Regions from separate parts of the Homo sapiens genome. Here all the other regions are linked to region 5. The links come from fine-mapping of genetic effects on gene expression. A gene starts in region 5. Each other region holds a variant in brackets. All regions are shown on one strand. Distances are between the middles of the regions.

The links. PIP is the estimated chance that this variant, and not a neighbour inherited with it, causes the effect. A credible set is the group of variants that fine-mapping cannot tell apart.
Region 1: its variant is the best candidate, but not a certain one, in a credible set for the expression of CCDC18-AS1 in whole blood (TOPMed, PIP 0.61).
Region 2: its variant is the best candidate, but not a certain one, in a credible set for the expression of CCDC18-AS1 in cerebellum (GTEx, PIP 0.85).
Region 3: its variant is the best candidate, but not a certain one, in a credible set for the expression of CCDC18-AS1 in visceral fat (GTEx, PIP 0.57).
Region 4: its variant is the best candidate, but not a certain one, in a credible set for the expression of CCDC18-AS1 in whole blood (TOPMed, PIP 0.55).
Region 6: its variant is the best candidate, but not a certain one, in a credible set for the expression of CCDC18-AS1 in prostate (GTEx, PIP 0.85).

The regions. Positions count from the first base shown.
Region 1 is chr1:93,201,398-93,206,351 of GRCh38, forward strand. CCDC18 (coiled-coil domain containing 18) reads left to right here. Exons shown (of 29, transcript NM_001378204.1): 7 at 495-591; 8 at 4,113-4,234. Among named protein-coding and RNA genes, the nearest start is that of CCDC18, 23 kb to the left of the region's middle. The variant A/C (reference allele first, on the strand shown) is at 2,394.
Region 2 is chr1:93,232,778-93,237,731 of GRCh38, forward strand. CCDC18 (coiled-coil domain containing 18) reads left to right here. Exons shown (of 29, transcript NM_001378204.1): 19 at 3,471-3,613. Among named protein-coding and RNA genes, the nearest start is that of CCDC18, 55 kb to the left of the region's middle. The variant C/CTTGTTTTGTT (reference allele first, on the strand shown) is at 2,006.
Region 3 is chr1:93,454,071-93,459,024 of GRCh38, forward strand. The region is part of intron 1 of FNBP1L (formin binding protein 1 like); the gene reads left to right. Among named protein-coding and RNA genes, the nearest start is that of FNBP1L, 8.4 kb to the left of the region's middle. RefSeq lists enhancers at 620-1,139, 1,140-1,658. The variant T/C (reference allele first, on the strand shown) is at 2,318.
Region 4 is chr1:93,208,536-93,213,489 of GRCh38, forward strand. CCDC18 (coiled-coil domain containing 18) reads left to right here. Exons shown (of 29, transcript NM_001378204.1): 10 at 2,267-2,391; 11 at 3,566-3,726. Among named protein-coding and RNA genes, the nearest start is that of CCDC18, 30 kb to the left of the region's middle. The variant C/T (reference allele first, on the strand shown) is at 2,537.
Region 5 is chr1:93,343,269-93,348,222 of GRCh38, forward strand. It overlaps CCDC18-AS1 (CCDC18 antisense RNA 1), which reads right to left and starts at 2,543. Exons shown (of 9, transcript NR_034089.1): 1 at 2,456-2,543. It overlaps DR1 (down-regulator of transcription 1), which reads left to right and starts at 2,639. Exons shown (of 3, transcript NM_001938.3): 1 at 2,639-3,597. The coding sequence starts at 3,378. RefSeq lists enhancers at 2,234-2,769, 3,139-3,208, 3,269-3,478.
Region 6 is chr1:93,396,388-93,401,341 of GRCh38, forward strand. No RefSeq gene overlaps it. Among named protein-coding and RNA genes, the nearest start is that of FNBP1L, 49 kb to the right of the region's middle. The variant G/A (reference allele first, on the strand shown) is at 2,366.

The sequences.
Region 1 (4,954 bases), 140 kb before region 5:
GTTGTGTTTTTTGTTGTCTAGATTTTTATATCTGGTATCAATAGAAGTTACCATTTTTTGAAATAACTATTTGAAATTTATTTGACCTTTGCAAAGGTCACAGAATTTACTGAGTATATTTAATATTCTAGACAATAGACTGATTCTGTAATACCTAACCTTTGAAAATGTATCATCCAGCCTCAGGCTATTTCCCTAATCTGTCTTTTCCAGATAGGGAAAAAAAAAATTGCCAACACATAAGAATTTATATATATTTCGACATTTATGTTTATTATTGTTTTGTGTTTTATTTTTCATATTGATAGAGTGAGAAAATTTTTGTAGTATGATCTACATTCTTCATTTTATACTTTAAGCCTAATACTCCTTTTTAGTGCAGAGAAATTTGTTTCTCTCCAATTATTCCTTATAATTAAAGATTACTTTGGAACTTAACTCTTCAAATGCAGAGCATTCTTCACTTTTATTCATTATCTCTTTTTAAATTTTAGAGCTGAACGACAAAGGAATGAAGCACTATATAATGCCGAAGAGCTGAGTAAAGCTTTCCAACAATATAAAAAAAAAGTGGCTGAAAAACTGGAAAAGGTAAAAGGCAGTTGTGCAAATTCAGTGTTTTGTATTACTGTCTATATTCCAACAGTAAAGGTAGGAATAATTAAAATATGTTTATGGTTGAGACAGAGAGTAATTTTTATGATCTTACAAAATCATTTAAATAAACAATTTGTAAATGTTAGTTAAGGATGATGTTCACCAACCCTTTTATTATCAGGAGAAACTTTTTTATCCAAAGAGGGAAAAGAGTAGAGAGAGGAGAAGGAACAAAATACAGAGAAGGATGGAATGTGTTAACAGAGACTGGAGCTAAAGAAGTAGAAAAAAGAAATTCATTTTTATCACTTCAATGAAAATGAAGATAGATTATGTAGCTTTCAACTGGTCTCCCTCAGTCTGCTACTCTGAGAGGGGCTTGCTTCTGCCTCTCGGAAGGTTCCTTGAACTGATTTGATATAGAAATAATAGTGAGTTTATTACATTCATTTATTATATTCATTTATTATCTTTAAGTAATATCACATGGTAATGAAATGTGTATGGAGGAACACCACAGTTGGATATTCAGATATTGAGCTCAAAAGAGAGGTCTGGTAAAGAGATACTAATATGGGAGACTTCCATCTTGAGATAGCAATGAAAGCAGAGGAAGTTTATGATTCTGATCCAAGAAAGGTAGAAAGGCAGAGGAAGGAATGTTCAGGTAGAAGGGTAGAGTAAGAAGATGGGTGTTCATTTATTAAACAATCATGAAATTCCTTTTACATGCCAGGTACTGTGCTAGTCTCTGGGAGATTCGGTGATACATAACACATGATACCTATCCTAAAGAGCTCACTGTCTAGTAAGATTGACAAGTATGTAAACAAATAATTTCAGTATTTTGGAATAAGTATAATATAGAAATAAGAGGTAGGTGTGGTAGGGTGGGTGAAGGTGGCAGTGGTTAATAAACTCTGGTGGGCCCAAAGAAGGCTTCACAGAGTAGGCAATGCTTGAGCTGCTAGGCTATCTCAAAGATTGTGATATATCTTTGAACAGTGTTAACCAGGGAAAATGATCAAAATCTATGTTCTAGGAAGCTCACCCTGATGTCATGTGAAGATGCATTTGAGAGGTGAGAGACAAGTCAAGGAGACTTTAAAAGACAAGGCAAGAGATATTGAAGATGAAGGAGCTGAGTAGGTAGCTATGAGGGATGTTAAAGTTGGGGAATCAGTGGGATCTAGTGACCACTTGAATGCATTAGAAGCGGGCAGTATGAGAAAGAAGAATATAGGATATTTTTAGGTTGCTGGTTTGAGTGACTGCTGGATGATTGCATCATGAATCAAAATAGACAGTTTAAGAAAAAAAGTTAATGAGTTCTATTTTGGAAATGTCTGTAGAATATCCAGTTATAGGTAGGCTTTTGTATCTATAGGTCTGGATTTAGACATACAAATCTGTACTAGGGCTGTAGTTTTGAGAATTAACAGTACTGAATTAAAGTGGTAGAAGCCTTGGACATTGACAGAGTTCATATAGAATGAGAACAAGATGAAAGATACCCTGGGAGATAAAGAACAGGTAGATTAGCTTTTGAAAGATATCGAGAAGTGATTTAAAAAAATTAGAGAATCAGGAAAGTATAATAAGAAAAGCCAAGGTGATAGAACATTTTAAAAAGAAGGTGGTGATCTTCAGTGCCAGATGTTGCAAATTGGTCAAGAAGAATGAGGACTGAACCAGGTGTGGTGGCTTATGCCTGTAATTCCAGCTACTCAGCAGGCTGAGGTAGAAGGATTGCTTGAACTCAGGAGTTAGAGGCTGCATTAAGCCATGATAATGCC[A/C]CTGCACTCAGGCCTGAGTGAAAGAGCAAGACCCTGTCTGTAAAAAATCAGAAAAAAAAAATTTAGAAAGATGAGGAACAAGACAGGGCTATTGGTTTTTATAATCAGGGAGTCATTGGATACTTTGTAGAGAGCAACTTATTAAAGTAGAAGGCACAACCTCTGAAATGGGAGAAATGGAAAGGGAGGGGGTAGAGGTAGCTAACAGACAATTCTTTACATACGGTAGGTGAAGAGGAAATAAGTGTGTGTGGTGGGTTGGGAGAGGCAGCGAATGGAAGGGTAGAAAGAAGCTAAGTTAAGGTGAAGAAGCTGTGGTAAAGCACCTAAGGGTATCCTGAACATATTAGTAGGGGGAGATTGAAGATGCTAGAATTATAAGGAATAAAAGATGGCACAAGGGTCTGAATGATATGCAAGATGATAGTCCAAGAGCAGAAGTGAGATTCTTTTTTTTAATGAAATAGGACATTTCTTTATGGGAAAAAAGTGGATAAAAACAGAAAAAAGTTTTAGGTGGAAGGAAATTGAACGATTTTGAATTAAATGTCTTTGGTCTCATAAATTAAGATGTTGCTTAAGTGATTTTCATAGCGTAAGGAGGATAGGAGGGATTTTGGAAACTTGGGGTGAGTATTTCTCATAATATATTTGCAATAAGGAAAGCCAAGAAATTTGCTAAACTTTTGAGAGAATATATGGAAAGAAAAGAGCAGTCAGGAATGATGAGTTAATAAAAGGAAGCAAGGAAAACAAGAGTGGCCAGAGTCAAGTGTAATATTATCATGACAGCTACATGATAAAATATTTTAGAGGAGAAGTTACCAACAATATTAAATACTGAGATCAAGGAGAAAGTCTGCAGTTGATTACAAAGTGGTCATTCCTTTGCAGTAAAACTGTGAGTATCACTTGGCAGTGTAAAATATTAAGGTCTCACTAGGTACTGAAATCTTTTTTTTTTAAATTTTATTATTATTATACTTTAAGTTTTAGGGTACTGAAATCTTAAGTGTGAATTAGTTAATCAGAACGCTGTTTTGAGAGCTAAAGAGGGTCCTTGTGGGAATGAAATATCTTAGAAGGGATTTTTAATAAGGTGATCAGTAAGGGGAGGTAGAAGACCTAGTAGGAGGAATATGCTTGGGGAGAAGAAGGACTTTATGGAGAAGGAGAGAAGAATGTAAGAGACAGGTTTTGTTTTTTTACACTTAGGATTATCAATTGCAAACAATGCTCAGCAAAGCCCTATAGTTAGGTGGATGTAACAGGGTAACAAAGGAATTGGGGCAGATCTACCCAATCTTCTCCTCTCAACAGTGTATCTTGGGTGCTTTTTTCTGTTCTACATTTTGGGCTGTGGTTTCGTTGGTAAATTTTGTGGTTCAAATTTCAAAAGTAACTTCTCTGGAATATTTGCACTGAAATTAACCTTTAGTAACTCGGACGCAGCAGCTGTAGATGAATTTTTGACTTCAGTTGATGCAATTGCCTATCTGTTACAGGTTTTCTGGACAGGTAGTAGTGTCTTTTTCTCTGTCCTTTGCTACTGCCCAGGAACTTCACTTTGCTTCTTTTCACTACAAGGCTGGGGACTTAAATGTATGAAATTCTTAGTCTACTCTCCTGCTTATTTCTGAAATCACTACTGACATTTTTAGCTTGAAACACCTAAAACTTACAACCACATTAGTATGTCCACTTAAATTATTGTTTTAGGTTCAAGCTGAAGAAGAAATATTAGAGAGAAATCTAACTAACTGTGAAAAAGAAAATAAAAGGCTACAAGAAAGGTGTGGTCTATATAAAAGTGAACTTGAAATTCTGAAAGAGAAATTAAGGTACAGTATTCTGTTGTAGAAAAAGGATTTTTGTGTGGACATGGAAAAAACTGAAACACTTTAAAACACAATATTTTATTGTTGTAATTATAGGCTTACATTATATAGAAGGATAGGCTTCATGACTGAAACTGTTTTCTAGCTATAGAGTTAGAATTAGAAGTGAAGTAAAATGTGTTAATGCTAATAATATTTGTAAATACGGAGACATACTGATCAACATATTTGCTTTGCATATATTTAGAGAAAATTAATAGATATAATGTCCTTGATGTATAACCACATTAACTCACTAGTAAAATGTGTATAATATCCGATGTTCTAAAAAAAAGTGTTTTTCAAATCATAAAAAATTACCTAGTCCAGACTTCTCATTTTATAAGTAAACAGAAGCCCCGAGAGTAGCCAGAATTTACTGAAGGTCTGAAAGATCGAAGTCTTCTGACTCCAATGCTCTCTTTTAGTACATCATGTTGTCCTCTCAAAACTAACACCCATCAACTTTCAGAGGTTAATATTAACCAGTCTTTATCACTTCAAACTGTTAATTTAAAAAAAAGGGGGAGCAGGAAGCAATCAATGACTGATTTGTCTAATTTTGCCATACTTTCCTTAAGGTAGTCTGTTTAGTATTTTTGCCAAGGAGGAGGAAGTAAAGATACTTTTTACTAGAGTATTTTTTAGAATCGGTTATCGATTGCAAGATATACTTTTAAGAAA
Region 2 (4,954 bases), 110 kb before region 5:
CTGGCCAACATGGCCAAACCTCGTCTCTACTAAAAATACAAAACTTAGCCAGGCATTGTGGCACATGCCTGTAACCCCAGCTACTGAGGAGGCTGAGACACAAGAATTGCTTGAACCCAAGAGGTGGAGGTTGCAGTGAGCTGCAATCGTGCCCTTGCACTCCAGCCTGGGCGACAGAGTGAGACTCCGCCTAAAAAAAAAAAAATTGCTGTTAAACCTCAAGGATTTTGCATTATAAGAAATACTCTATACTGATATTGTAAAATAAAGTTCTATTCCTATGTAATCTGACCTCCATCTCTTATACCATGATTATATGTTTGCTGTTCCATACAATTTATAATTCATGTTTCTTTATTCAATCTCTCTTCTTGTACCTAATCTGAATACCTATAATTTTTCCTTTTTGGATCAGGACATGGTATGTGATATTCCTTAAAGAAATGGCAAAGCAGTGCACTAAAAGAAAAATCCCAAGGGAAAATACCCCTGAAAGTTCTAAAATTAAAAATTATTACTTACTTGAATGTAAGAATTCTAGAGAATTTTATACTAGAATCTAATCTTTTTCCTTTAATTCATTACTGAATTTATCTGAATTCTTTAGATATTTTACATTCTTATTTTGTTTTTTCTTTGAAAAGAAATCAAATTTACAGTAATGTGTAAATTAGAAAATGATCGTCCCCTGTAATCTTACTGTATTTTCCTTTTTTGTCATTTTTTCGGTCTTTTATCTACTTGTTCTGAAGTCCTCCTCAGCCTGTCCAGTGGAACTAAAGTATCTTCCTCTCACTACATTTAAACACATCAGGCAGGTATTCTGTATTTTTTTTTTGAGACGGAGTTTCACTCTTGTCACCCAGGCTGGAGTGCAATGGCGCGATCTCAGCTCACTGCAACCTCCGCCTCCCGGGTTCAAGCGATTCTCCCACCTCAGCGACCTGAGTAGCTGGGATTACAGGCATGTGCCACCACACCCAGCTAATTTTGTATTTTTAGTAGAGACAGGGTTTCTCCATGTTGGTCAGGCTCGTCTCAAACTCCCTTCTCTGGTGATCCACCCACTTGGGCCTCCCAAAGTGCTGGGATTACAGGCGTGAGCCACTGCTCCTGGCCTCTATTTTTTTTCAAGAGACATCTTCCTGTGACTCTCCATCCCTTTTGTTAAAATTTAGACCTACTGCTTGCTATGCCTACTATACAGCTTCATCCTGAAGCATTTCTTCTTCTCATCTATGTTTGATTCCCACTGCCTACATCCTTTGTCATTGACTCTGGTTCTTGCAGGATTGATTATGATTCTTGTTCCTAACTCACTTCTATAATGGTTGTATGGTTTTTTCTGTTTTGTTTTGTTTTTTTTTAACAAGTTCACTTTTTTTTCTTTTTTTTCTCTTTTTGAGACGTAGTCTCACTGTGTCGCCAGGCTGGAGTGCAGTGGTGCGATCTTGGCTCACTGCAACCTCTGTCTCCCAGGTTCAAGTGATTCTCCTGCCTCAGCCTCCCGAGTAGCTGGGACTACAGGTGCGCACCACCACATCCAGCTAATTTTTGTTTTTTTAGTAGAGGCGGGGTTTCACCATGTTGGCCAGGATGGTCTTGATCTCTTGATCTTGTGATTCGCCCACCTCAGCCTCCCAAAGTGCTGGGATTACAGGCGTGAGCCACTGCGCCTGGCCTCATTTGTATTTTTTATTTGGTGATTTTCTTTGTGATCTTGTTTTAAAAGATTTTGTGTTCTCATTAGCTTCACTGAGGTCTACAGAAGTTTATATCTAAAAATTTCTTCAGTATTTGGAGTAAATTTTTGACTTGGTATTCCTTTTCTGCCTTTCATTCATATTACACTGTGCATAGGTTCCATTTTGCATCTTCAGATTTCTCTATTTAATTAAGAATTGAGTAGGTGGATTTTCCTTGGTTCCTTTCCCTTTTTACCTGGGTACTGTTTTAATTTTCTTCTTGAAACTTGAGGTGGAGGGGTGGATATTAATGGGGTTTT[C/CTTGTTTTGTT]TTGTTTTGTTTTGTTTTGAGACCGGGTCTTACTTTGTCACCCAGGCTGGAGTGCAGTGACATGATCATGGCTCAGTGCAGCCTCAACTTCCCTGGGCTCAGGTGATTTTCCCACTTCTGCCTTCCAAGTGCATACCACCATGCCCAGCTAAGAGTGTGTGTGTGTGTGTGTGTGTGTGTGTGTGTGTGTGGCTTTTCTTTTTTTTTCTTTTTTTTTTTTTTGGTAGAGACAGAGTTTCACCATGTTGCCCAGGCTGGTCTCGAACTCTTGGGCTTAAGAAATCCACCCTCCTTGGCCTCCCAAAGTGCTGGGATTATAGGTGTGAACCACCGCACCTGGCAAGATATTAATGGTTTATGATCTATATTTAGTTCTTCAGTGAGGGATTTTAGAAGAACGGGGGATATGCAGGTCAGAGTTGAGAGGTTAACTTTGAGACCACAGTCATATAAATATTCATGAAGACATGGAGTGACTGAAATTACCTAGGGAGAGAATATAGAATGAGAAGCAAGAAGATTGACTTGGACAGATCCCTGAGGGATGTGATACATGGAAGCCAAAGTAAGTATTTCATTAAGGAAGGAATGAATGTTGCTGTCATGGGCTACTGGAATCAGTGTCAAGTAAAATGAAGGTTGGGAAATGTCCATTGGAATTAGCAACTTGGAAGTCACTGGTGTTGTAATCCCTGTTTCTGTGGAATGGCCTCTGGCTATGGGTTGAAGAATGAGAAGTGAGACAGTGATACAACATGCATAGAAAACTTTGAGAAGTTGGGCTATATATGGGAGGAAATAAAGGGTAGTAGGTAGAGGGAGGTCAAGGTCTGAAGAAAAGCTTTTTACAGTGGGAAAGTCTTTTAACATGTTTAAATGCTAATATTAAAAAAACAGTAGAGAGACTGAAGATATTGGAAAGAGGAGATAGTAGTATGAAGTTCCTGAAAAAATGAATAGGAATTGAATCCACAACACCTATGAAGCAGTTTGATTTATATAAAGGAGGAAGAATACCTCCTTTATTGTAGTAGAATAGAGGAAGAATGAATAGGAACAGATTCAAGTTAAGATGGGAGCAAATGCAAATTAGCATTTGAGGTCATGTGGAAATCTAGGAATCTATTGAGTGAGCCAATTCGTGAAGAAAAGAAAGGAGCAGTATGGTAAGAGAAGAAAGGGCATTTCAAATGGGGACAATGAAAAGGGGAATATTTACTATCATTTTGTTCAATTATTTTAACACTTTAGTGTTATGATGTGGCCACTTCCCTAAATAGTAATATGTATGTGAAGTATCTTTATTATTAGAAAGTAAGCCTTGCTTTTTATATTTTCCAAACATTACTTCTTGGTCTATATGTTGATTTTTATGATACATCTTGAAACTGATAAGCTAGGTTACATATTTATAAAAGTATTTTTCTTCTGAATTTAAAATGTTTACTGAAAACTGCTTTACAAGGTGTCAAAACTGGAACAAGAACTTCAAAAACAAAGGGAAAGTTCAGCTGAAAAGTTGAGAAAAATGGAGGAGAAATGTGAATCAGCTGCACATGAAGCAGATTTGAAAAGGCAAAAAGTGATTGAGCTTACTGGCACTGCCAGGTAAAATGTGAATATGTTTTATTTACCTTCCCACTTCAATATCAGTGGTATCTGAGTTTTGAAATCAGATAATGTTCAGTGGAGCATTTGCTTGAGGAATTAATGTCTCCATAGTCTGTGTTCCTATTGCATTTTGTTTGTATTTCCTTCATATCTCTCATTATGCTTTTTACTGTATTACAGTTTAATGCTTTTAACCTTCCTACTATAAGTTTCTTAAGGCAAGGATCATACCTGGTTTATTTTAGGGTCTTACACAACAACTGGCACAGTTCCTTATACCTCATAGGCACTCAGCAACTGTTAATTGTGAATAACATTAAAAGTTGTAGGCAAAAATGTAAATGTACTCACATAGAGGAAACTTTCAGGCAATCCAATTATATAGGGGAAGAATGACAATATAAAAGTGGTTCTCAGCCTTGAGTGAATATTAAAATCACCTCAAGAGCTTGTAAAAAAACATACTGATGACTGGGTCCCACTTTTAGATTAAATAAAACCTAAAGATTCTGATTTAATTTGGCTAGGCTGGTCCCAGGCATCGATACTTAATTGGTCAAGAAAGGAACCCATGAGCTGAAAGCAGTACCCAGCCTCTTCAGATCTCTTCTACTTTGTTGGGAAGAATTGACATAATTTATAACATAATCAGCCCACCCTTCTACCAACAGGAGTCAAGAGTGAACTTAGGCACTGGCACTAAAACCACATGTCCCCAGGTTCCCTCTCCTCCATTGACAGGGGTCCTTTGTGCTCAGAGGAGCAACTTGCTTCCTCAGATGTCTGTCACCCTCTCAGCAGGGTTGAGGGCTTCCCAAGTTTAAGACTAAGACCAAAGTATTTCACACCTTCTTTCTTCCATTGACAGATGTTCTACTCACTAACATGGCCTCACCACTGGTGTCCACCTTGAGTCTGTGAAGACTGACTGCATTATCACTTTATCCTTGTTTATGCCAGATACCACAAGAAACCCTAGATTTCCAGGTCAGCTCTCATATCTCACACTAATTCCCAAAAAACTCTCCACACATTCTGTTTCTTTCTCCAACCCCATCCCAACTTCTGAAAGACTTCTACTGTGCCTTTTGAACTTCATAATCCATTCTCTGTATTCACTACTTTTTCTTTTCTCTTGCTGTAATAGAAACCTGGCCCTCCCCTAAGGACATTGCTTCTTCCCCTGTAGCCTTCTAAAGTAAAAAACTTTTCCCCATAGCTCTTGTACCACAGGGTCCAGGCAAGGTGTGAAGTATATACTATACTTGGTGAACCTCATGCCATCAGAACCCTTACTGGTGCTGATTTCTTTAGACGGCCTGACTTACTGTTGCCCTC
Region 3 (4,954 bases), 110 kb after region 5:
TCCTAGAGGGCAGATATTGTGTCTTACTCATTGCTTATTCATTGTCTGATTCATTGCTGTATCCTGCCTGGATTAGCCTGACATTAGTAGGGTCTTTAATAAATGTTTGTTGGACTGACCTGAGTCTAGTGTTGCGTTTGACTTGAATTTGAGTGCACAATGTCTGAAAGTAGTGATGAAGGGTAGACTGGAACCAGGCAGGCAAAGAGGTTGGTCTGGCTGATTGCTTGATTCATGAACCTCTTGTGTGTGTGTATGGGTGTGTCTGTGTGTGTGTGTGTGTGTGTAGTTACACATTTGTATATAATCAAACCACTTTTCAGACCATTTAAAAATTCACAGAAGAAAATCTTAGTTTATTGGTAGAAGGGATTACCTCTTGCTTCTGAATACTTTGGTGGCAGGAGGGGAATACCTCTGGGTTTTAGAAGATGAAAGTGTATTTATTTTAGCGCCGCTGCAAGAATATTTGAAGGATGTTATTTCCTTTAATAATATGTTACTAATTTGAAATTAGTTTTATTTTTAAATATATATTATTACTACAGCTCGTTTATATTGTTTTTTATTTTCCCTTTATCTGTGACTGTATACTGTAGGCCCTCCATATCATTTGATTTCCACGTCTGTGGATTCAACCAACCATGGACTGGAAATACTAATTAAAACAATCATACAACAATAAAAATAATACAGATCTAAAAACAATACAGCATAACAACTATTTACACATATCATTTACATTGTATTAGGTATAAGCAGTCTAGAGATGACTTAAAATATATGGGACGATGTGTGTAGGTTATGTGGGTTATGTGCATATACTGTGCTGTTTTATTTTTATTTATTTATTTATTTATTTATTTATTTATTTTTGAGACGGAGTCTCGCTCTGTCGCCCAGGCTGGAGTGCAGTGGTGTGATCTTGGCTCACTGCAAGCTCTGCCTCATGGGTTCATGCCATTCTCCTGCCTCAGCCTTCCGAGTAGCAGAGACTATAGGCGCCCACCACCACGCCTGGCTAATTTTTTGTATTTTTAGTAGAGACGGGATTTCCCCATGTTATCCAGGATGGTCTCGATCTCCTGACCTCGTGGTCCACCCGCCTCGGCCTCCCAGAGTGCTGGGATTAGCGGCGTGAGCCACCCCACCTGGCCTGTTTATTTTGCTGGAGTGCAGTGGCACAGTCATAGCTCACCGCAGCCTCAAACTCCTGGGCTCAAGCGATCCTCCTGCGTCAACCTCTCAAGTAGCTAGGACTCCAGGCATGTGCCACCATACCTAGCTAATGTATCTTTTGTAGAGACAAGGTCTCGCTGTATTGCTCAGTCTGGTCGTGAACTCCTGGCCTCAAGTGACTTTCCTCCCTCAGCCTCCCAAAGTACTGGGATTACAGGCATGAGCCACTGTGCCTGGCTCTATGCCACATGCCATTTTATAAGGGACTTGAGCATCCATGGCGAATACCAATGCTGGTGGACAACTATATTTTTACTTCTATATCAGTTTAAATATCAGTGCTTTTTCTGGAGGTGAGAGGGTGTTCACTGGGAAAAATGCAGTTAGTTTAGATCCCCACTCTTCTGCTTTAATTCCTAGTTTCATGAGCTGATTTATGTACTAAGAGTATTCTAATAAGAAAATATTTTAGAATATTTGAAATATCACCTTCTAATTGATGACAATGATAAATGCTTTAAAACTGCAAATTGTGCTTTAAAAATAATAAAAGTAATCTGTTAGTGTTACAGATAATTTTAATATTGTCATCTGTGCCTTTCGGCATTTTCCTTTTTTTCCCAAAATAAGTTGTATTAACTTCTATGATTGGTTTTACAGAATTTTCATTGACTAGTTCTTTGAAACCTCTTTTATACTATAGGGGGATGCCGTCGGGCATTGTGAGATGTTATCTACCTGGGCATGGGGGTACACCCCTCTAGTCTCAACTATTTGGGAGGTTGAGGCAGGAAGATCGCTTGAGCCCAGGAATGAGTCCAGCCTGGGCAATATAATGAGACACTATCTCCAAGGAAAAATAATGTCTGACTGCTTTTTGTAATGTGGGAGTCAGCATTTAGAATCTGTATGGAGCCCAAGAAAAAAAATCTCTAATAACAAGGATAAAAGTTTATGTAAAGTGTCCATGTTGAATCCAAATTAGTTATTCATGTTTGGCAATTGGGGCATTTTTTCCTTAAGTTCTTGATAAATAACTAATCAGCAGACTTTACAAATATCTCATGAAAGACGGGAAATACTAGTATTTGTATACTTGTTATAGTTTGAAAAGAATCAGTGTATAGAGTGAGATTTT[T/C]CTATTTTTGGTACATCATAATTTTGTTGTTTTTAGGGAGTAAAGGATATCTGTTTTGTTTTTGCTGTGTCCTTGCTGCACACCCAATTTATAGAAAAGGAGCCAGGTGCAGCTGCTCATGCTTGTAATTCCAGCACTTTGGGAGACCAGGGTGGGTGGAGCTCTTGAACCCAGAGAAACCAGCCTGGGCAAGATGGTGAAACCCCTTCTCTACCAAAAAAAAAAAAAAAAAAAAAGCAAAAATAAGCTGGGCGTGGTGGTGGGCACCTGTAGTCCCAGCTACTCAGGAGGCTGAGGCGGGAGGATCACCTGAGCCCAGGAGTCGAGGCTGCAGTGAGCTGGTATCTGCCTCTGCACTTTAGCTTGGGTGATAGAGCAAGACCCTGTCTCAAAAAAAAAAAAAATCGTTGCTTTTGGGGGAGTATTTACAGGGGATGACAAGCCACTGAATCCCTCTATTGATTCAACAAATTTGAGTGCTTAATATATGCCAATTGCTTTTCTTTCTTATCTTTTTTGAGACAGGGTCTCACTTCCATAGCCCAGGCTGGAGTGCAGTGGTGCCATCACAGCTTACTGCAGCCTCGACCTACCTGGCTCAGGTGATCCTCCATCCTCAGCCTCCTGAGTAGCAGGACTACAGGTGCTTGCCACCACACCCAGCTAATATTTGTATTTTTTGTAGAGATAGCGTTTAGCCATATTGCCCAGGCTGGGATCTTCTGGGCTCAAGTGATCCATCTGCCTCAGCCTCCCAAAGCACTGGGGATTACAAGTGTGAGCCACTGCGTCTGACCTCCAACCACTATTCTGAATTGTATCACCATTGATTACTTTTGTAGGTTTTAAAATTTCATATAAATGATACCGTATGGTAAGTACTCTTTTGCACCTTCTTCCTTTTTAACATCTGTTTTCTTCCATTTTGCATCTTCTTCCTTGGTATCTGTGAGACTCATCCTTCCGTGGTTAGTTGCAATGTTCTATTTTATGTATAGAATTTGTGTTTTCTTCTGCCATTTGCTTGGGGTCATTACTGGTCTGGGACTACCTTAAACTAGTTTTAAAATGTGCAGTTCCCTTGTGTGGTTGTTGGATTTTGATTTTTTTCCCCTGTATCTCTTGCTAGACTAGCAAAACAGTGATTCTAATTTTTCAAGATTGGCAAACATCCTCAGGGCAAGAGTAGCTTATGTGCTCTTTTACCTTTCTGGATTCTCCTTTTTACTTCACGTTTCTTGGCTTATCTTTGATGATTTAAAAATTTTGATATATATTTTATCCAGATTTTTTATTAAGTTAAATAGTGATAGTTGACCCAGATAACTTAGCCCACCATTACTGGAAACAGGAATTTATTTTTTATTTTATTTTATTTATTTTTTATTTCATTTATTATTATTATTATTATTAATTTTTTTTGAGATGGAGTCACACTCTGTTGCTCAGGCTGGAGTGCAGTGGCACGATCTTGGCTCACTGCAAGCTCTGCCTCCTGGGTTCACACCATTCTCCTGCCTCAGCCTCCCGAGTAGCTGGGACTACAGGCGCCCGCCACCACGCCTGGCTAATTTTTTGAGTTTTTAGTAGAGACAGGGTTTCACCGTGCTAACCAGGATGGTCTCGACCTCCTGACCTCATGATCTGCCGCCTCAGCCTCCCAGAGTGCTGGGATTACAGGCGTGAGCCACGACGCCCGGCCGGAAACAGGAATTTCTTATATTAAGTTTTTAATTTTTGCTATTTTGATTTCTAAGAGCTGTGTTTTTTTGGTTTTGTTTTCTGAATGTAATTTTAAAATAGCATCTTCTACTAGTATCTTGGAGCAATATCTTCTCTTAGTTCTTTTTATAGATCAAAGACAGGTTTTTGAGGAGGAAAACTGGATATCCACATGCAGAAGAATGAATTTTTTGTTTTTAGATAGAGATGGGGTCTTACTGTGTTGCCCATGCTGGTCTTGAACTTCTAGGCCCAAGTGATCCTCCTGCCCCAGCCTCTCAAAGTGTTGGGATTACAGGCATGAGCTACCGTGCCCAGCCCAGAAGAATGAAACTAGACCTTCATGTCACACCATATACAAAAATCAACTTAAAATGGCTTAAAGACTTAAACATAGGACCTGAAACTGTAAAAATACTAGAAGAAAATATAGTTCCATGACATTGATCTGGGCAGAGATTTTTTAGTTATGACTCCAAAAACACAGGCAACAAAAGCAAAATGGACAAGAGGGATTACATCAAGCTAAAAAGCTTCTACACAACAAAGGAAGCAGTCAACAGAGTGAAAAGACAGCCCATGGAATGGAAGAATATTACAGTAATCCACCCTTCAGTTTTGCTTTTTGTGGTCAACTGTGGTCTGAAAATATTAAATGGAAATTTTCAGAAATAAACATTCACATAACTTTTATTACTATTTATTGTTCTAATTGTTCTCTTTTATTATTAGTATTGTTGTTAATCTCTTACTGTGCTTAATTTATAAATTGAACTTTATGGCAAGTATAGAAGTATAGGAAAAACAGTATAGACCCATATAGACTTTGGTACTACACGAGGTTTTAGGCATCCACTGGGAGTTTTACAGTATATCCTCTGTGGGCTGAGCATGGTGGCTCACGCCTGTAATCCC
Region 4 (4,954 bases), 130 kb before region 5:
CAACCCACCTTGGCCTCCCAAAGTGCTGGGATTACAGGCGTGAGCCACCATGCCTGGCCCTAATTTACATTTTTTTTAATGGCTCATGATGAGCAACTTTTCATGTACTTATTAGAATGGCATAGAACTTAAAATTTTTTTTCTTTTTTTGAGATGGAGTCTCGCTTTGTCGCCAGGCTGGAGTGCAGTGGTGCCATCTTGGCTCATCGCAACCTCTGCCTCCCGGATTCAAGCGATTTTCCTGCCTTATCCTCCCAAGCAGCTCAAACTATAGCACGCACCACCATGCCCATCTAATTTTTGTATTTTTAGTAGAGACGGGGTTACACCATGTTGGCCAGGATGGTCTTGATCTTTTGAATTCGTGATCCCCCTGCCTTGGCCTCCCAAACTGCTGGGATTATGGGCGTGAGCCACCATGCCCGGCCTTTTATTTTTTTGAAACGAAGTTTCACTCTTGTTGCCCAGGCTGGAGTGCAATGGCGAGATCTTGGCGCACTGCAACCTCAGCCTCCTGGGTTCAAGCGATTCTCCTGCCTCAGCCTCCTGAGTAGCTGGGATTACAGGCATGTGCCACCATGCCCAGCTAATTTTGTATTTTTAGTAGAGACAGGGTTTCTCCATGTTGGTCAGGCTGGTCTCGAACTCCCAACCTCAGGTGATCTGCCTGCCTTAGCCTCCCGAAATGCTGGGATTACAGGCATGAGCCACCACGCCTGGCCTAAAATGTTTTTATAATAATGGTCTACCACCTTTTCTCTTTTAGTAATATTTGTGACCATATATATAAATGAGATTAAGAAGAAGGTAAGTAAACCTATTCAGGAATTTGTAATCAATAGGTGTAAAATGAAGGAAAGATCAGGGGAAACTATAGGTAAATATATTATGGTTGGTTTCAGATATGAATGTATGGTAGACTAGATGGTAGACTTACCAATGTTAAACTGTTATGAACTGTGGAATTATGAACCAAAAAAATCTCAGAAATCATCTGATTCAATACTATTTTATTGGTGAAGAAACCTAGACCCAAGAAAGTAAATAACTTGCCCAACTGGTAAGTAGTAGAATTTAAACTAGAACATAAGATCTTAGCTCCTCTGATATCTGCTTTCCCAGGATGCTGTTTATTTGCTTGGATTTTTAATGTACTGTTTGCTTTTGAAATTAGAAAGTAATCATATACAGATAACAATTTTAATTTGGCATTCTCATTTGTGTATCAAGAATTATTTCATATATGGTCAGGCACAGTGGCTCCTGCTTGTAATCCCAGCATTTTGGCAGGCCAAGGTGAGAGGAACTCTTGAAGCAAGAGTTCAAGACCAGCTTGGGTAATACAGTGAGACCCTGTCTCTACAAAAATGCAAAAATTAGCTGGGCATGGTGGCGCATGCCTGTGGTCCTAGCTACTCGAGAAGCTGAGGTAGGAGGATTGCTTGAGTCCAAGAGTTCGAGGCTGCAGTGAGCTCTATGATCATAAGCTCCAGTCTGGGTGACAGAGTGAGACCCTGTCTCTCAAAAAAGAATCATTTGAGATATGATTCCGAATGTGGTAATGTATGCTTGATCGTTTGTTTCTTGTAGTGCTAAGAATGACACGATTAGAAAATGTGATTTTTTTCTACTTCTAGGAGGTGTGATTCGGTTATAGTTTGAAGGTAGAAGTCATTAAATGCTAACCTTGCTCCTTTTTATAACTGTCTTTTAAAATTCTGTATTATCCAAACATACAGAAAGGTGCATATGCTAGTGTAGCACCTTATTTGTAAAATTTGGGACACATATTGTCTTATCAACTCTATGTTTTTTTAGAATAAAATTTTACAGGTAAATCTTCTTTGTGTACCTTGTCAGATCCCAATTATCTTCCTCTCTCCTCAGAAATGGCAATTATTCTGAAATTCATGTGTATCCTTCTCGTCCATGTTTTAAATATTGTCACATATCGATGCATCTAGAAATATATATATGTTGCTTAGTGTTTTTATGAAAATACTGTTTGCCACTATAATTTGTTTTTCACTCAATATTGTTATGAGATGTATCCATACTGATTTATGTGACTCAGGTTTATTTCTTTTAACTATTGTAGTTTTCCAATTATCTTAATATTTCTTAATGTATTTATATATTCTCCTATTGATGGACATTAAGTTGTTTCCATTAAATTCATACAGTTTTTAAAATTTGAAGTTCTGAATAAAAAAGCAAATGCATCTCATTTACATAAGTTTACATATGTTTGTTTTTAAACTTGCAGTTAAAAAGAGAATTATTTGGCTTTAAATCATATCTTTCTAAATACCAGATGAGTAGCTTCTCAAACAAGGAAGACCGTTGCATTGGCTGCTGTGAGGCAAATAAATTGGTGATTTCGGAATTGAGGTACAATTTTCAGATTCTGCAGTTATAGCAAATAGAATGTTTTTTATTGGTAATTAAGACCCTTAATTGGCCGGGCATGGTGGCTCATGCCTGTAATCCCAACACTTTGGGAGGCTGAGGCAGGCGGATCACGAGGTCAGGAGTT[C/T]GAGACCAGCCTGACCAACATGGTGAAACCTCGTCTCTACTAAAAATACAAAAATTAGCCAGGCATGGTGGTGGCACGCGCCTGTAATCCCCACTACTTGGGAGGCTGAGGCAGGAGAATCACTTGAACCCGGGAGGCGGTGGTTGCAGTGAGCTGAGATAGTGCCACTGCACTCCAGCCTGAGCAACAGAGTGAGACTCCATTAAAAAAAAAAAAAAAAGACCCTTAATTGAGGAATTTAAAAAATATACAGAAAAGCTCAGAGAATATTATAACAGGTATCTGTGATTCCACAACTAAGAATTGAATCTTCTTAACCAGGATTGATTCTCCTTAAAATTTGTGGTATTTGTTTTAAATCTGTTTCTCCAAATAAAAAATAAAACATTACAGGATGAATAATGCCCTTTGATCCTTATGACTAGTCCCATTTTTCCCCTAAGTATCCACCATCATGAATTGGATATATATTTCTCTATTCATTTTTGTATGTTTACACACATGTACACAAATATGTACCGTATACTGTGTGCAATTTTGCTTTTTCACTCAGCAGTATTTAAAAAATTCATTCATATTGAGATAGAGTAGATTAACAAATGGATTTGTGTAATTACTTTTAATAGCTGTATAGGATTCTGTCCTATAACAGTGTCATAATTTATTTGTTCCTTTATAGGTATCTTGTTTCTGTTTTCTGTTACAAACAGTGCTGCAAAGGACATCCTTGTACATGTTTTCTTATACATATATATGAGAGTTTCTGTAGTATATATTCCTAACAGTGAAATTGCTGGGTCATACAGTGTGTACATTTTCAATTTTACTAAATACCATCAAGTTTGTAAAGTGGCTGAACCAATTTATAATTCTACAGTGGTATATGGGAGTTTTCATATCCTGCCTAAAGAGTTGACTAATATTAGAATTCTAATTTTTTAAATCAACTTGAAAGGTGAAAAATAGTACAGTATGAGTTTTTTTATAGAATCTTTCTAATAATTTTTCCCTTCTTTTCTTTTGTGCCAGAATTAAGCTTGCAATAAAAGAGGCAGAAATTCAAAAGCTTCATGCAAACCTGACTGCAAATCAGTTATCTCAGAGTCTTATTACTTGTAATGACAGCCAAGAAAGTAGCAAATTAAGTAGTTTAGAAACAGAACCTGTAAAGCTAGGTGGTCATCAAGTAGGTAAGTATATTGAGTTATTTTAATAAATTATATTCAGAGTTTTGGATGATAGTTTTTTTTTAAAAAAACTTTTATTTAAATTTTTTTTTTAATTTAAGTTCAGGGATACATGTGCAGATTTGTTACATAGGTAAGCTTGTGTCATGGAGGTTTGTTTTACAGATTATTTCATCACCCAGGTATTAAGCCTAGTACCCCTTAATTATTTTTCCTGATCTACTCCCTCCTTCCACCCTCCACCCTCTGATAGACCCCAGTATGTGTTGTTCCCCTCTATGTTTCCATGTGTTCTCAGATGATAGTTTTTAAAGAACAAATTTATCAACTGTTTGGTTTCTATTATCAAACATACTTGATAATCTGTTACTAGTTGTGGTCTGATAAGACAGCAAAAGTTATTTCAGAATTATTAGACTTTGTATCATTCGTTAATGAAGTAAAATTGATATCCAATAGAACAGTGGTCCCCAACCTTTTTGGCACCAGGGACTGGTTTTGTGGAAGACATTTTTTCCATGGACCAGGGACAGGGTCAGGGTTGGTTTCAGGATGATTCAAACGCATGACATTTATTGTGCAATTTATTTATATTATTATCATATTGATGTTGAAATAATTATACAACTCATCGTAATGTAGAATCAGTGGTAGCCCTGACCTTGTTTTCCTGCAACTAGAAGGTTCCATCTGGGGGTCATGGCAGACAGTGACAGATCATCAGGCATTAGATTCTCATAAGGAGTGAGCAGTCTAGATCCTGCGCATGTGCAGTTCATAATAGGGTTTGTGTTCCTGTGGGAATCTAATGCTGCCGCTAATCTGACAGGAGGTAGAGCTCCAGCAGTAATGCGAGCGATTGGGAGTGGGTGTAACTACAGATGAAGCTTTGCTCATTCGCCTGCCACTCACCTCCTACTATGTGGCCCAGTTCCTAATGGGCCATGGACTGGTACCAGTCCGTGGCCCAGGGGTTGGGGACCCCTGCAGTTAAGATGCACCCATTTTAATATACAGTTTGATACGTTTTGTCAGGTGTTTGTGTTTTAATGTTTAACTCTTGTTACCATCACCACAGTCAAGACATAAGACATCTCCACCAGGATCCTTTGTACTTTTTCCCAGTTAACTTTTAGGCTTAATTTTCTCTCTTTTTTTTTTTTTCCAAAAAAACCACAAAACTTTTCTTAAAGTTTAGATTATTGATTTTAGACCTCTTTTCTTTTCTCAT
Region 5 (4,954 bases):
TATTTAAATATGGGCTACAGATTAGCATATTTTATGACATATCACACTGGTATTTATATCCAATTAAATTTCTCTCAGCCACGTATGTAATAAACTAGTTACATGGTTCATTACTAGTTGAAGACTGACCAAGCCTGATAAAGATGATAAAAGACACTAACATTATATAACACTTCATACTATAAAAAGTACTTTCACACAACTCTCATTTGATTTTGAATCCTGTGTGTTACATAATATTTCTATATCTGAACTGAAGAAAATGAGGCTTGGAGAGTGACTTGTCTAAGTAAAAAAAAAAGCTGGGACTGGAACCTACAACTCTTACTACACATTCAATTCTGTTTATGCTACCACAGAAGCCTGTAGCAATAAACTATTACTGAAATAATGTGTGCTCTACTCGTCTATTTAGCATAAGTCTATAAACATAAATGTTACATGAAAAAGCAAAGTTATAGTTTTTTCAGGAGAGACAAGATAAGGGTCAGTGACACTGTGACAACTTGGGACATTTTTTGCCAGCCAGCTTTTTCAGACGGATAAACTTGTTAAGGTCAAGATAAATTTAGGCACCATAATAAATCTTTAAATCAACAGTAAACTGACAAAAAAAAACAAACCCACCACTTCATAAAGTATTTTTTTTTTTTTGAGATAGAGTCGTGCTCTGTCTCCCAGGCTGGAGTGTAGTGGTACGATCTTGGCTCACTACAAGTTTTGCCTCCAGAGTTCAAGCGATTCTCCTGTCTCAGCCTCCCAAGTAACTGGGATTACAGGTGCCCACCACCACACCCAGCTAATTTTTGTATTTTTAGAAGAGGTGAGGTTTCACCATGTTGGCCAGGCTGGTCTCGAACTCCTGAGCTTAAGTGATCCGCCCCCCTTGGCCTCTCAAAAGTGCTGGTATTACAAGCATGAGCCACCATGCCCAGCCTGAAGAAAATTTAATTAAAATACTGTTTTTAATCAAAGAAATTTTGTTTTGACTAAATTTAGTAGCACTGAAAAACAAGTGTCTACACTTCAGAAATTAAAGAACCAGTAAGTTGTCCTGCAGAAAATGCTAAATGAAAAAATAGCATAATAAACTGTAATGTCTTCTTGAGAGCAGCATATAGGGCTCAGACAGAACGTTTTAAGAAAACACTGTCAACAAGCCAGTTGCCATCATATGTATCAAGAGTAATGAATCTGATGAACCAAAGTGACAAAATGGATTTCAACAGTGTCTTGTTTAGTTTTTAGAAATTCCAACATCCCACTATTTATAGTATAGCCTCTTCTTCCACATGACAGTATGACAGACTCAGTTTTTTTACTTTTTTTTTTTTTTTATCTTTTTTGAGACAAAGAATCTTGTTCTGTCACCCAGGCTGGAAGTGCAGTGGCACAACCGCAACTCACTGCAGCCTTGACCCCCTGGCTCAATCGATCCTCCCACCTCGCCCTCCAGAGTAGCCGGGACTACGGGTGCCTGCCACCAAGCCTGGTGAAAAAAAAACCCGTGTTTCATATTGTCATATAGAAGAGGCTATACTATAAACAGTGGGATGTTGGAATATATATTTATATATATAAATATATATTATATATATATATATATATATTTTTTTTTTTTGTAGGGACGGGTCTCACTATGTTGCCCAGGCGGGTCTTGAACTCCTGGGCTCATGTGATCCCCCTGCCTCAGCCTCCCAAAGTGTTGGGTTTACAGGTATGATGAGCCACAACGCCTGGCTGACACACTTTTTTTTTTTTTAAATGCAATTTCTGTTTAGACCTTGACACCTGTTGATATTACTAGTCACTATGGAAAGAAGTAAAAACAGTTGCTTAAGATGCTCTAACACTTTTTTCCCCTGTAGAAGCCAACATGGAATACAACATGAAAACTGTCTAAATGGGAACCTTCTAATATAGCTCATTGTATGCCATGCATTTCCACTCCATTTCCACTATGTTGGAACTGACTTCTGCTTTCCTACTTAGCCATTAGGCGACTTAGTTGCCTCTAGGCAAGTAACTTCTCTGAAATGTTTCATTTTTCATGAAGTTTAAAAAAAAAAAGGTGAAGGACTTTAGAGAGCTTTGAACCGAATAAGGTCTATCAGACATCTTGAAAAGCTTTTTCTCCAGACGACGCAGAAACAGGCACACGGGGTTCTGCTTTCCCCACCTCCCACCCCCAAGCCCAGGTCCCATTCTTCTCACTTTCAATCCTCATTTGGGCTCCTAAAGGAATAGCAAAGAGAGTTATTTTATCAATACCAGCGCTCCTCTGTCCCCAAATCCAGCTAGGGAAGGTTTCGGAGGCCTCAGCTACTTGAGAGAGGGTAGAGACGATCCTTCCTCGCCTATCTACCCAGCCACCCACCCCTTCCCAGATGTAGCGTCCGGGCCCCAGACCAAGCGCGTGCTTGGAGCTCTCCGGTACAGTGAGGCGCGCGCTTGCCTGGCTAGGGTCCCTGTGAAGGAATGGGATCCCGAGGTGCTTGCCAGGACCGTAGCAGGCGGAAGCTGCTGGCAGCGCGAACGGGCGGCTCCCGCCGGCGTGGGTGGGGGAAGGGCGGCAGCCACACCCGGAAGTCGGTCCGGGAGGGAGGGGGAAATCTGAGGGAACGAGGCTTCCGGTGGCGCAAAGGGTGTCGGGAGCGGCTTCCTGCAAACCTTCCCTGGCATCTGGAGGGACCACCGTTGCCGCGTCTTCGGCTTCCACGATCTGCGTTCGGGCTACGCGGCCACGGCGGCAGCCACTGCGACTCCCACTGTGCCTGGCTCTGTCCATATTAGTTCCCAGGCGGCCGTCGCCGTTCCAGCAGCGGCAGCGGCAGCGGCAGCGGCGGACATGTTGTGAGGCGGCGGCGCGGGTGTCTGAAGGATGGTTTGGCCGAGGCGGCGGCAACGGCTGCTGGCGGCGGCGGCAGCGGCAGCGGGGCCTCGGGCTCTATAGAGCCGAGCCCGCTGGGTACCCGCCCGGTACCGCGGCGAGGCCAGTGCCCCTGGATCTTGCCTCTGCTCCGACGCCGTTGGGGACCAGTTAGGCGACAGCGCCCGCCCCTCTGAGGAGACACGAAGGTGGTTCCCCAGCCGCTCAAATTTCCGGACCACCGCGCTTTCCCCTCCTCAGCCTGGGCTGTGCTCTCTCTAGAATCCTCGGGCCCCCACTTTCTTCCCAAACTCATCCTAAATCTCTCACACACGCGAGTGTTCCCAGCCCTCAAGCCAGCTGCTCCTCCGTTCATTTTCTGCACCCTCTTCGCAAAGCACCCCCCGGGATCACTCTCCGAGGGCGACTTTTTGAGAAATCTCGGTGGAGTAGTGGACCAGAGCTGGGGAGTTTTTAAAAGCCGGGGCGCGAGAAACAGGAAGGTACTATGGCTTCCTCGTCTGGCAACGATGATGATCTCACTATCCCCAGAGCTGCTATCAATAAAATGATCAAAGAGACTCTTCCTAATGTCCGGGTGGCCAACGATGCTCGAGAGCTGGTGGTGAACTGCTGCACTGAATTCATTCACCTTATATCTTCTGAAGCCAATGAGATTTGTAACAAATCGGAAAAGAAGACCATCTCACCAGAGCATGTCATACAAGGTAAGTCGTGTGTGAGAGCTGGTTTGAATGAGGTTCTAGGGTAGCAGTCTGCTAATCGCGTGACCCTTTCGTGTCAAAGCCTCCATTCCTCTTCCCTGGTAAGTAACTTAATGAAAAAGCCAGACTGGCATGTAGGCAGCCGGTGCTTTAAAAACAATCCCTTTGTAGCATTTTTGCAGTACTTTTCATCCAGCGAATACATGTAAGGAGTGCAAACATTTAGGTCAGCGTCCCCAAAACGTAAAGAATAAGAGTGATCTCACTTTACAGCCAGGTAAGCCGAAGCAACAAGAATTACTTGCCTGAAGTTGAACTTAGATAATAATTAAGGAACGCAGAAATTCTCCTTTGGAAAGTTAAAATTCAGACGGAGGAACTTCAACGTGGGTGGAGACAGAGCACCCCCTTCCCCACCTGACCTTTCACCAATGTAGAGGAAAAGATTTATTTTCTGAACACATGAGTTAAAAAATTCTTAACATACAATGTGTTCAACGTTGTCAAGTTTATCGTTGTTAAATAAAAGGTGTATGTTTTCTGCTCTAAAAATGGTTTGATGGTACGTTCATGAATGAGTTACCAAATAACTCCTGTTCCATTCTGTAAGAATAGGGTGAACTTTAAATTTTCGTTTTTTTCTTTTCGTTTGCTTTTATGTCGTTTGCTTTGTTCTATTCTGTGGAGATAAGTTTTGAAATCTTTGATTGAAAGTTTATGCAAGTTTTTTTTTTAACGGAAAATTTCCCCGTCCTTTCCTGCTGTCATTCCTATTTGAATGTATACACTTAGGCTTTTATGGAACAGCACTTCTGAAAACTTCAACAGTTTCTTTTATCCTGGAAAGGATTTGGTCCCGTAATAGGGATTTGGGGGACTGTATTCTGGTGGTTTCAGAGAGGAGAAACATATTTACTATTCATAATGTTTCGGGAACGTACCTTTTGCGATATTTTTACATGTACTCTTGTGAAAGAGTTGTACTCAATTTGAGGTGAGAACTTGCCTTTTGTAATAATCTAATTAAAGTTATTGATTGCTTGTGAAATCAGGGAAAAATGATTAATTTTAATCATTTTGATAGGCAGGTGGTTGTCTATCACTTAATTTTTATAATTTAACTTTTTAAAATGTGACTTTCCTGTTGTACTGAAGTAGAGAACACATCTGCTTATATTGACCATATCCAATATTTTACTCTCAGTATTGACAAAAGGATTAAATGATTCATTTTTAATCCTTTATGACGTCTTGAAAGTAGTTTTAAAATATATCCTGCCATTTCAGTACACAAGCAGAAAAATCCCTAGGAAAAAGCATATTTGATTCTTAAAACTAGTACTAGTTTTTTTTTTTTCTA
Region 6 (4,954 bases), 53 kb after region 5:
ATTCCAGTTTCTCAGAGTGGAGGCAAAAGTCCAAGAGAGAAAGGTCATGGAAACAGGTCGTGCAATCTTCTACAGTGTATCTCACTAGAAGGAAAGTTCCCCAAGGCTGGTGGGTGACTCAATAAAAGTCCCCCAAGGCTGGTAGGACTCCAGCCCACTCTGTGATCAGCCTATCCCCCATAGGAGTCTTATCCTTTGGTGGTGAGTGTTCCTACAGCCTCCAAGTTTCCAAAATGTACTTTTTAAAAAATCTAGCCATGCAAGCACTTTGGGAGCCCGAGGAGGGCGGATCACGAGATCAGGAGATGGAGACCATCCTGGCTAACACGGTGAAACCCCATCTCTACTAAAAATACAAAAAATTAGCTGGGCGTGGTGGCGGGCACCTGTAGTCCCAGCTGCTCGGGAGGCTGAGGCAGGAGAATGGAGTGAACCCAGGAGGCGGAACTTGCAGTGAGCCGAGATAGCGCCACTGCAGTCCGGCCTGGGCGAAAGAGCGAGATTCTGTCTCATTAAAAAAAAAAAAAAAAAAAAAAATCTAGCCATGCAAAAAATAAAAATAAAAAAAAGTAGCCTCTGTGTAATACCTATTCATTGCAACCACTGTCAGCCACCTCCAAAACTGCAGCCCTCACCAGTGACTGCAGCCACTGAATGTAGAGCCAGCCATTGCATACTCAAGGATCAGGTATTCTCTCACAGTACAAAGTAACTTCTGGTACCCTCAAAGCCAAAGCTGTCAGGGAGCTCAGTGCAAATGAGAGCAGAGCTTTAGACCTGAGAAGAACCTGCTCATGACTTTTGGTGCTTCATGAAGAAGACAGAAGACCCCAAAATGTGGTCAGAGGCACCTTTTTGGTCTTCCTTAAGGAGTGTCATAGTTGCTAGGGTTCCCCTCTAGATCTCTTCGTGTGGTATCAAAGGTGGTAAAGGAAGGAAGAATAAAAGTAAATGGGATAATAAGTCTCAGGGAAGCCAATTTGGGGAGATTTAAAACTTCTCAAAAAAAGTCAGTGAAGTTTTACCTTTTTCTAAGCAAAAAATTATACCAACAGGAAAGGAAGCAAACAGAGGGATGAAACATATTTTACACACTCACATATATATATACGCACACACATGTGTATGTATATGTACATAAACACACACGCACACATACAATTTTGAGACAGGGTCTCACTCTGTCACCCAGGCTGGAGTGCATTGGCACCATCATGGCTCACTGCAGCCTCGACCTCCCAGGCTCGAGTGACCCTCTCATCTCAGGCTCCCAAGTAGGTGGGACCACAGGTGCATGCCACCATACTCAGGTAATTTTTTTTTTTTTTTTGTAGACATGAGTTCTCCATATGTTGCCCAAGCTGGCCTTGAACTCCTGGGCTTAAATGATCTGTCTCAGCCTCCCAAAATGTTGGGATTACAGGCATAAGCCACCATGTCCAGCCCAAACATATAACTTTTTATAAAGAGTTTCAGTAAACTGAAAAAAATTCTCATGGGAGAAACAAGATCCAAAAGAGAAAAAGCAGAAAGGCCTTAAAAAAACTTTTAGTTTGAATATCAGTTTTTAATTAAGCTGGCTTCTGACCACATAAAGCTTTTTAAAAACAATCTTTTAAAATCTGTCAGAGTTTAGCCATGACAAACAGCCAATATTCTTGGTTTTGAACTTCTTTAAATCAAAGTTATCTTCCAAGTGACTCCAACCAAAACCTATAAGCCTTTTATGACTTAACCAAGGATGCATAAGGCATCTCCAAAAAGGTGCAAAGCAGTTCTCACAAGAACCAGAACTACCCCAAAGACAGCTCAAGGAAAAAAAATTTACTAGTTGCAAATGGGGTACAATATACATTTCTGACCAACCATGTTCTTTAGGGTCTTGGCTTATCAACTAACCATCTTCACATAAAGTCTCAGCAATTGCATGCCCCATAGAGGGAAGATTAAAATAGACAAACAATTAGTAAGACAGGAAACTAAAAGCTGTCCATGGAAGGGAACAAGAACAGTAATAAATGGGTACTCCAAAAGTCAAGAGTTACACACAAATATCAAACCTGTAATCACCCAATGAGTTCTTCCTGCCTGCTCTACAGACAGAATCAATTCATTTAGAGCATGGCATTGCAATAGAGAAAGAGTTTAATTGATGTAAGGTCAGCCATGTGGAAGAACTGGAGTTATCACTCAAATCAGTCTCCACGAAGGCTCAGGAGTTAGGGTTTTACACCTGAGAAGAACCTTCTCATGACTTTTGGTGCTTCATGAAGAAGACAGGAGACCCCAAAATGTGGTCAGAGGCACCTTTTTGGTCTTCCTTAAGGAGTGTCATAGTTGCTAAGAGTCCCCTCTAGATCTCTTC[G/A]TGTGGTATCAAAGGTGGCAAAAAAGGAAGGAAGAATAAAAGTAAATGGGATAACAAGTCTCCGGGAAGCCAACGTTTTGGACAATTTGGTGGACAGGGGGATAGGGAATGGGTGCTGCAGATTGGGTGGGGATGAAATCATAGGGGTATGGAAAATGGTCCACATGTGCCAACTCCACCTTGGATAGGGGCCACAGGACCAGTTGAGTTATGAGTCATGGGTCCAGATGGGGTCAGTTAGTTGCAAGACAGTCTGAAAAAAATCTCAAAACACCAATGTCAGGTTCTACAATAGTGATGTGATCTATAGGAGCAATTGGAGAGGTCACAAATCTTGTGACCTCTGGCCACTTGACTCCTGAGAAGTAAGGGATTATAGAAACTATATCTACATCTTATCAGCATTCAGACCCCACTCATAATCCTAACCTTATGGCCTTTCATTAGTTCTGCAAAGGTGGGTTAGCTTGGGGAAGGGGTTATTATCATCTTTGCTTTAAGATTAAACTATAAACTAAGTTCTTCCCAAAGTTAGCTTGGCCTACATCTAGGAATATAAGACTAGACTACAAGTTGAAATGTCTCCTTTTTAAATCCTGTGGGGAATCCAAAGCAGGCAGTTTTAGTGTACAAAGGATTTTAACTTTGTTTTAAATCTGATTTCTGCTTTTTTTTTTAAGGAGAATTTCTAAGGCTAGTCATGACACTAATATGTGTCTTTCTTTCAATTTGATCCTCCCACAAAAACAAATAAGGCAATTACTTAGAATGGAGTAAAATATTTTTCAGATATAGGAGTCTTTCTAGTCCAAAGGATCCATCTTCTGGCCACTAACGATTAGAATTTCCAACTATGTATTTATTTCAATAGCAACTCAATTCAATAAACCTCTTCATGGATAGACCAGCAGGTAATTTTCCAGGTTTGGAATAAGTTTTTACCACATAAGCAAGCGTATCCCTGGAGAGGGCATAGAACAGCTAATTCCCATGATTTCCCCAAATTCACTCCCAGAAATAGGCCAAAATAGCAAAAACCTCTTGTCACAGATGGTAAAGAATGGTGTTTGTGTGCACTGTTCCTTCATGTTCTGCAGGGAGCAAGTCTATGCAAATCTACCCCCAAAGTTTAAGGAAGCTGAGAGGCTGAAGAAACAGGCTGACAATCCAGTTTTTCAGGAAGAAAGATTTAATAGGGAATTAACAAAGAGAAGCCATCTCTGTGTCTTGTTTGATGGCAAGACAAGATAGTGGATCCCTGCACCATTTACCCTCCCAGGCCCAGGGTTTACATACCACAGGGGAGGAATGTGTAGGACAAGTGAAGTCAACACCCAGGGAAAGGCAAGAATGCTATGTGAATCTGCCAAAGGGCAGGATTTAAAGTCAAGGTTATTTGACCTAAGGGCAGAATTTACAGTAACAGTAAAGTAGAAATCTTAGAGGTATTCTCAGAACAGGGAATCAGAAGTCAACATTGTGGATAAGCATTCAAAATGGAATTGCTTTAGCCTCTACACTTCAATAACCCACAAATTTATAGGGGACTACCAGTCACAGATCCTTTAATTGGTGACAACAGGTAGGTTCTCTTTGGATTAGACTTTCCCAGAACTAACGAGGCAACAAAAGTCCCTTATGGTTAAGACTTCTTATGAAGACAAACTTCCCTGGCCGAGTGTGGTGGCTCACACCTATAATCCCAACACTTTGGGAAGCAAGGCAAGAGGATCCCTTGAGGCCAGGAGTTCGTGATCAGCTTGGGCAACATCTCCCACTCCCCTAAACAAAAAAAAGAGAGAGAAATTAGCCAGGCATGGTGGTACACACCTGTAGTCCCAGCCACTGGGCTGAGGCAAGAGGATCCCTTGAGCCCAGGAGTTTGAGGATGCAGCGAGCTATTTTGCACCACTGCACTCCAGCCTGGGTGAGAGAGTGAGACCCTGTCTCTTAAAAAAAAAAAAAAGAGACAAACTCCCCTGAGAGCTTGGCACATTCTGAACAAAGAGTGTGCTGCTTGATAGCTTATGTGTCTTGGGGTTCCCAGTCCTTTCAGAACGTAAACCAAAAATAAAATTCAAAGGCCTCCCTTCAACCATCTGAATGGACTGCCTCCTTGGCCAGGACACTCTAAAATTTAACCTGAAAGACTGGTTGGGGCCATGACTGACAGGAAGGGTGGGAGGGGTTGGACATACCTTATTATACCTCTCCAGCATTAACATCAACACAGACCTTAAGTCTGATAAGAAACATTTACAATCTATTTTCTCTGAAGCCTGCTACCAATTGCCAATTGCCAATCAGAATATGCTTAAATCTACCTATGACCTGGAAGCCCCTGCTTTGAGTTGTCCCATCCTTCCAGATCAAGCCAAAGTAAATCTTACATGTATTGATTAATGTCTTGTGCCGTATGGTTTGGCTTTGTCCCTACCCAAAATCTCATCTTGAATTGTAATCCCCATACTCCCTATGTGTCAAGGGCAGGACCAGGCAGAGGTAATTAGATCATGGGGGCAGTTTCCTACATGCTGTTCTCATGATAGTGAGTGAGTCTCACGAGATCTGATGGTTTTATAAGCATCT